Homo sapiens: one gene and its partner. The protein of the gene in region 1 purifies or fractionates together with the protein of each later gene. This does not show direct contact. Each region holds a gene or a part of one and is shown on either strand. Other genes may lie near its edges.

Evidence for each region. Proteins that work in one complex are often made in the same cells at the same time.
Region 2: the proteins of CRHBP (region 1) and PHLDB3 purify together in Homo sapiens (affinity purification with mass spectrometry; 4 studies listed by BioGRID and IntAct, with this or other methods). This does not show direct contact.

The regions. Positions count from the first base shown.
Region 1 is NC_000005.10:76,951,863-76,955,844, forward strand, and holds the start of CRHBP (corticotropin-releasing factor-binding protein), read left to right. Parts: upstream 1-1,182; 5' UTR 1,183-1,272; coding exon 1,273-1,353; intron 1,354-1,738; coding exon 1,739-1,832; exon of another isoform or gene 1,833-1,878; intron 1,879-2,166; coding exon 2,167-2,324; intron 2,325-3,790; coding exon 3,791-3,982. UniProt on the Homo sapiens protein: Binds CRF and inactivates it. May prevent inappropriate pituitary-adrenal stimulation in pregnancy.
Region 2 is NC_000019.10:43,494,747-43,498,246, forward strand, and holds part of PHLDB3 (pleckstrin homology-like domain family B member 3), read right to left. Parts: intron 3,131-3,500; coding exon 3,002-3,130; intron 2,534-3,001; coding exon 2,372-2,533; intron 875-2,371; coding exon 749-874; intron 594-748; coding exon 510-593; intron 70-509; coding exon 1-69.

The DNA of each region.
Region 1 (3,982 bases):
AGAGCTCAGAATTGTCCTGACATGAAAATAATCAAGTTCTGACACTGCCAGGATAATTACTGTTTAATTTCGAGTATTTTAAAACTGAAAATATAGCCATTCCTTCCTTTATAACTCTGTATTATGGTCTATTTGTAATAATTGTAATAACAATGCTTGGTGCAGAGACTGGAAAGGGGTAGGAAAGCCAATAGTGGAGCATCCTCATGTTTCCCACAGTTTTGGACACAAAGAAGAAATTCTCTTCTCTCCTGATAAGCAGAGATAAGCTTATACTTATTTCCGGATCCCTAAGTCATCTTTTTAGCCCTGCAAATTTGCTGGTGAGCAGTTACAATAAAGCTTCCTGGCAGTTCCTTCTACCAGAGTGTTAAAGTAATCCAGGTATTTGAAGGCACGAAATGGAATGACTTAATCTCATCTCTCAGTGGTTCAGATGGATGCGAAGGTCATGGCTACAGCTACCTGGTCTAGGAGTGTGTACATCATGTAAACATCCAGGTCAAGTGACAGAGCTCAGCTAAAATCCAGAAGTCCCCTGACACCAGAGTTAGTTTTCCATGAAAGAAATGCCTATAAGAAACTGGACCAGGATAAAGCAAAGAGTAAGGGGCAGGAAGAAAGCTTATAATTGCATTACTGCAATCTTCTGCAAAATCAGACTTCTGCTTCTGTTCCACCTCTTTAAAGCTGAAAATGCCTCAAGTTTCTTACTGAGAGACATGAGAAATTCCATGAATACTAAATTCTTTGACAATTTCTAGCATGGTTTCATCCAAGGTTATGTGATGAGGCTGCATAATATAGGCTCTATATGTTTGGGTATTTTATGCGTGTATGTAACTTTGTCACTTTGATTTGCAAAATGGAAAATTCCCTGAATGCCCACAGAAAAGTATAATGTAGCATTTAGCAGGTCAACAAAATGCACTCCCTTATTCTTTGTCTCCGCCTCATTCTCCAACACTTTAGTGCACTAAGTTGTAGTGACTGAAATCATTCTTGGTGAATAATGCTGGGCCACGCTGAAAATTTGTGGCTGAGAGCTGGACCCTCGTCATCGCCACGTACTCTGTCAATGAGACAGGGTAACCCATGGTTACTGAGCTCCGATCAGTTAAGGGGCAGAGAGCCTCCGCTCCCCACTGCTCTATAAAAGAGACCCAGCAAAGGGACCCTACCAGCTTCTAGCTCTCAGTCTGCGCGAGGGTGTAGGAAGGAAAGCCCAGGACCTCCGGAGCAGAGCACAGCAGCTGCAGAGGCAAGGCCAGCATGTCGCCCAACTTCAAACTTCAGTGTCACTTCATTCTCATCTTCCTGACGGCTCTAAGAGGGGAAAGCCGGTACCTAGAGGTGAGCCACCCCTGGACTGACCCATCTCACCTTCCTTGCGTGTTAGCCCTAGGCGGCAGGCAGGCTGCCTCTGCTCGCAGCCTTTTGGGGTTCGCTGTTTCTTCCCTCTCTGCTGGATGCTGTCTTGCCCCTGGTTTCCCCTATCCTGTTCTCCCTCCTTGCCTCTGAGCATCCCAGACTGCCTGCCTGCCTTCCTCTGGCCGCTGGGGATACCCTGGCCTGATGGAGAGGGTCTAAGACCTTCCCGTCTTCTCCGGACACGGGAAAACATTACCCCTCTCTCTTTATTCGCTATGCTGAGTGGCAGGGAGGGTGCCCCGCTCCTGGTCCCCTTTTTTATCCCCAGCCCTTGAACTTTTCCGGACTGACCTATGTTTCTTGCCAGCTGAGGGAAGCGGCGGACTACGATCCTTTCCTGCTCTTCAGCGCCAACCTGAAGCGGGAGCTGGCTGGGGAGCAGCCGTACCGCCGCGCTCTGCGTGAGTCGAGGCTGCCCGGCTCGCGGGCGCCCGGGACGCGGGGAAGGTGGGACTCTGTGCGGGGGGCAGAGGGCTCGCGGACATCTCGGGGAAGGGGCTGGCCGGAACCGCCAGGGGCGCGGTCCCCTTAGCTAAGGATCGGTCCGCGGAGGCGCGCCAGGAGCGGGAGAGGGTGGCGCGCCCGGGGCGCAGGAACCCAGCGCAGCCTAGGCTGGAAGTCGGGGCGCTGGGCACTACAGAGCCCGGGAATGGGGCGCGCGGAGAGCGGCCGCCCGAGGACGGCGCTGCGGCGGCTGCAGCCCGGGACTTATTGCCCCATGCCCTCCTCCCCCAGGGTGCCTGGACATGCTGAGCCTCCAGGGCCAGTTCACCTTCACCGCCGACCGGCCGCAGCTGCACTGCGCAGCCTTCTTCATCAGCGAGCCCGAGGAGTTCATTACCATCCACTACGACCAGGTCTCCATCGACTGTCAGGGCGGCGACTTCCTGAAGGTGAGGCGCCCACGGCCAGCCAACCTAGCCGGAGGGCGGCACGGGAGGGTTGGAAAGGGCTGGGGCGCTGCACCCAGCGTGGGGCTGCTGAGCGTAGGTAGCCAGTGGCACTTCTTAGACACTTCGCTGGTGCCCGAGTCGGAGAGGCGCGTTCGAGGACCCCCACACGGCGAGAATCTCGCCCTTACCCGAAGACCTCGACCCACACACATCCAGTGGGGCTGGGGCCGGTGCCTCTGGACGCTGCCATGGTTTAAATTCCCTTCTGGGCGCTTTCGAGGCCCTAGGAACTTCTAAAGACTTGAACTCGCAGCGCGGAACTCTGACGCAATCCAGGGCCGAGGAAAAATGATTAAAACCCAACAAGCTCGAGTGCTGGGGTCCACCAAGCGGGCCGTCTTGGTTAGAAGGCCCGCCCCACACGTCTCACATCTGAGCCCGCCTCGCTCCTGCTGGTCCACGCTCGGCAGAGCCGTTCCGAGAGCACAGAGGCTGTCTTCAGTGCGCGGGTGACCCGATTTTGGAGCAGTAGGGGACTGGCTGCCGAGGGGGCATCTAGATTGAGATAGGTGGGAGGGCAGGACAAGACCCCTAAGCTCACTGCCTCCTCGATTCCAGTCGTCAGACTCCATAAGTATAACAGGGCAGCATGGGATGGCTGATGGAGCTCTACTGTCCAATTAAAATAATCATGATTAACATCTCCAAAGTAGGATTATTTTGGAACCTGTCACATGCGTTAGAAATAATTTGTAGCTGGGTTGTTGGTAATTTTGCTAATGTGGACTAGATTGGACTCGTTAAACTGGAGACCTGTGGTGATTTTGAGGGTCAAGTCAATAGACTCTGACCCTTTGTTCAACTGCAAACTTTAACAAGTGAAGGAAAAATGTTCCAGGTAGCATACCAGCCATCATTGCCTGGCTGTTGAAGCAGTTCTTGACATTTTAAAGTAATATGTGATGATATTTTTAAAAAATGAGAAAAATGGGTGTATATAGTCATTAGCAGGTAAAGTTGCTGCTCCAGTTTTTTCTTTTGCTATCTATTTTCAAGATATTTTGTTCACATTTCAATGACTAGAGGAAAGAGAGAAGCTGCACGAAACCTAAATTATGCTTTTGTGGAATTCTTCTGAAGGTGAGAGGTAGAAAATATGACCAAGGTAAAAATGTACATTGTACGTTGTTTTATTTACCAAAGTGGTTGAAATGATAAAGTATAAGGAAGTTTACTTACTTTGGAAGCTTTAAGGCTTATAAAAAATTAATTAATACTATTACTTGCAAACAACCCTCACCATCCAATATATACAAATGAAAAGGCGAGCAGGCAGAGTGTGGACTGTCGATTCTCACTTATGACTGAAGGCCCATTGCTGGATGACTTTCCCCCCCTTTTCAACTCATTTCAGACTTCAGGAGTTGATGGAAATGATAGCATCTATGTCTGTATTTTTTTCAAAGGTATTTGATGGTTGGATTCTCAAGGGGGAGAAGTTCCCCAGTTCCCAGGATCATCCTCTCCCCTCAGCTGAGCGGTACATAGATTTCTGTGAGAGTGGTCTTAGCAGGAGGAGCATCAGATCTTCCCAGAATGTGGCCATGATCTTCTTCCGAGTCCATGAACCAGGAAATGGATTCACATTAACCATAAAG
Region 2 (3,500 bases), on another chromosome or scaffold:
GGCAGCGGAGTGGGCCACGGCATCCTGGAGCACCAGCAGCTGGCGGTCTGTCTTCTGGGTGAACAGCAGCTGCAAGAGATGGGGTGAAGTTTCGTGGGAGCAGGAGAGACCCCAGAGCAACTGCCAGTTTCCACGTGCTCTGGCCCATGCCTCTAGTGCCACCCATTTCTCAGAAAGAAAAACTAAGGAGAGATGGAATGTGGTCCTTCGTGTCCAGTCTCCCAATGTAGGGCTGTGGGCAGAGACTCCTGGCTCCCTGAGGAGGGGCTGGGGGCTGGACTCCTGGGTCTGAGGGAGGTGGGGCTGGGGCCTGGACTCCTGGGTCTGAGAGAGGAGGGGCTGGGGCCTGGACTCCTGAGTCTGAGGGAGGAGGGGCTGGGGCCTGGACTCCTGGGTCTGAGGGAGGAGGGGCTAGGGCCTGGACTCCTGCGTCTGAGGGAGGAGGGGCTGGGGACTGGACTTTCAAGTCTGAGGGAGGAGGGACTGAGAGGCATACAAAATCCCCATACCTTAGTGAGGGCCGGGTTGGGCTCAGAGAAGTCCCCGCCAGGTGTTCCCTGAAGGCAATTGAGCTCGAGCAGCCGGCTCCGTTCCTACCAGAAGATATGGACAGCTACGTGTCAAAGTCAGAATGGGCTGTCCCAGCTGCTTTCCCTAATGTCAGGAGACATCTGGGGTGCAGGGAGGTGGTGGGATGCCCCAGGGGGAAGTGAGGACGGTAGGGTAGGGCAGGTGACAGGTAGCTCACCTGTGACAGGGCCTGAAGGGCCTCCTCCTTCTTCCGGCTCAACCCCCGGCTCTCGGCTGCCATCTGCTCCCCCAGTGACTTGAGCTGCTCTTCCAGGACCCGGATCCGGTGCTGCAGAGCACCCCTCTGTCCCGGTTACTCATCTGTCACGGCCCCAGCCAGCTCTCCAGGCCACCCTCCCACAGAACCACATCTGCCTGGAGGGCTGGGGTTTACTCCAGCCACTCCCAGAGACCATGGGATCGGAGTGTCCAGGGCTGGGGACCCAGCGTTCAGCTCCCTGGACCCTCTTCCCTTTTGAGGGTCCAGAAGAGATCTGGGGAAGATGAAGAGAAAGGGATGGACAGAGAGAACAGTAACCAAGACAGGCCCCAAAAGACAGAGATGTAGACAAAGATTCAGGCAAAAGAAAAGATAGAAATAGAACAGAGACAAGTAGAGACAACCCGAGACGAAGGAAAAGCCAGCGGGAGAGGAAAAAGATCCAGAAGCAGGTGGGGAAAGGAGACCCAAGAAAAGCTCTTTTTTTTTTTTTTTTTGAGATGGAGTTTTGCTGTTGTTGCCCAGGCTGGAGTGCAATGGCTCAATCTCGGCTCACCGCCACCTCCGCCTCCCGGATTCAAGCAATTCTCTGCCTCAGCCTCCCGAGTAGCTGGGATTACAGGCATGCGTCACCACCCTCAGCTAATTTTGTATTTTTAGTAGAGATGGGCTTTCTCCATGTTGGTCAGGCTGGTCTCAAACTCCCAAACTCAGGTCATCTGCCTGCCTCGGCCTCCCAAAGTGCTGGGATTACAGGAGTGAGCCACCGAGCCCGGCCGAGCTTTCTAATCCAAAACTTTGGGAAACTCTGTGTTAAATATGGTCAAACATGCCCATTTTTTCCCAAGGGTCTCACAAGTCAGACCCTTGAATGTGAGGCTCCCAGGAAGGATCTGATGAAGCATCTTTTTGGAATAGAGGCAAAGAATGTGGTGGTGAATACCAAGTTTGTTCAAATCCTGGCTGTGGCGAGGCACGGTGGCTCATGTCTGTAATCCCAGCATCTTGAAAGGCCAAGGTGGGAGGATCGCTTGAATCCAAGAGTTTAAGACCAGGTGAAACCCTGTCTCTACTAAAAATACAAAAATTATCCAGGTGTAGGGGCTCGCACCTGTGGTCCCAGCTACTCGAGAGGCTGAGGTGGGAGGATCGCTTAAGCACAGGACGTGGAGGCTGCAGTGAGCTGTGAACGTGTCACTGCACTCCAGCCTGGGTGACAGAGTGAGACGCTATCTCAAAAAATAAAAATAAAAAAATCCTGGCTCTGTCCCTTACTAAGGAAACTTGGAAAAGATTACTTAAGCACCTTGACCTTCAGCTTCTTTATTTATAACGTGAAAAAAAAAAAACGTAATAGAACTTGCCTCATAAGTTTGTTGTAAGGATTCAGTGAGGAAATGCTCATGAAATATTCAGGACCATATCTGGCACATAGTAAATGTTTCATTAGTATCAGCTCTTGTTGTTACTATTCAGAAGAACATGACAGGCAGGAAACAAGGACAGAGAAAAAGGCAGGCACAGAGCAGGGGAGACAGAGAGGAGCAGCAAGGGGGGCAGCGCTGGTCAGGCATGACTCACTCTGTGCTGCGCCATGCTGGCCTGGAGTTCCTGGACCTTGGGGTCTGGCACCTGGGGCCCAGGGCTGTCCCGATCCTCCTCCTCCTGCCGGCTCTCCCGCTCCAGTTGCTGGAACTCCAGGTCCTCATAGGCACGTTGGGCCACATCCAGTTGTTCCCTCATCTATAGGTCGGAACACAAAAAGGGTGGAGGCCTGAATCCCTAAGACCCCAGGGAGTAGTGGGCTGGGGCTGGGACTCCTGGTCAGAGGAAGAAGGTGACTGAGGACTTGGATTCCTGGGTCCTGGGGAGGAGGGGGCTAAGAATCAGAGGGCCAGCTGGGCACAGTGGCTCACGCCTGTAATCCCAGCACTTTGGGAGGCCGAGGCAGGTGGATCACCTGTCAGGAGTTCGAAACCAGCCTAGCCAAAATAGTGAAACCCCGTCTCTACTAAAATGCCAAAAATTAGCTGGGTGTGGTGGTGCGCACCTGTAGTCCCAGCTACACGGGAGGCTGAGATGGGAGAATCGCTTGAACCTGGGAGGCGGAGGTTGCAGTGAGCCGAGATCGCACCACTGCACTCCAGCCTGGGCAACGAGGCGAGACTCTGTCTCAAAAAAAACAAAAAAGAAAGAACCAGATGCCATTACCTCCTGCACACCCTGCAGAAGCCGCTCGCGTTGGTCCTCTGGCTGTGAGTCGAGCTGTCCCTGGGCCTTGCGGAGTCTCTGGCGAAGACCCTCTAGGCGATCCCGTTCCTGGCTCAGCCGCCTCTGTTCCTGAAAGAACAACAAGGTTCTCACCCTCAGCTTAAGCATAGCGGGAGAAGCAGCAGCCAGCCATATCTCAGAGCCTGCCTGGGGTGTCGGCTGTACAAAGGCAGGGACTTCATCTATGTGATTCACTCCTGTGCAGGCCTGCCTCACAGTCAGCACCAAGATTTTAAAGAAATGAATGAGGCCAGGTGTGGTGGCCCACACCTGTAATCCTAGCACTGTGGGAGGCCAAAGTGGGAAGATCTCTTGAGCCCAGGTGTTTGAGACTAGCCTGGGCAACATAGGGGGAGCCCATCTCTACAAAAAAACAAAAAAATTAGTGGAGTGTGTTAGTGCACGCCTGTAGTTCCAGCTACTCGGGAGGCTGAGGTGG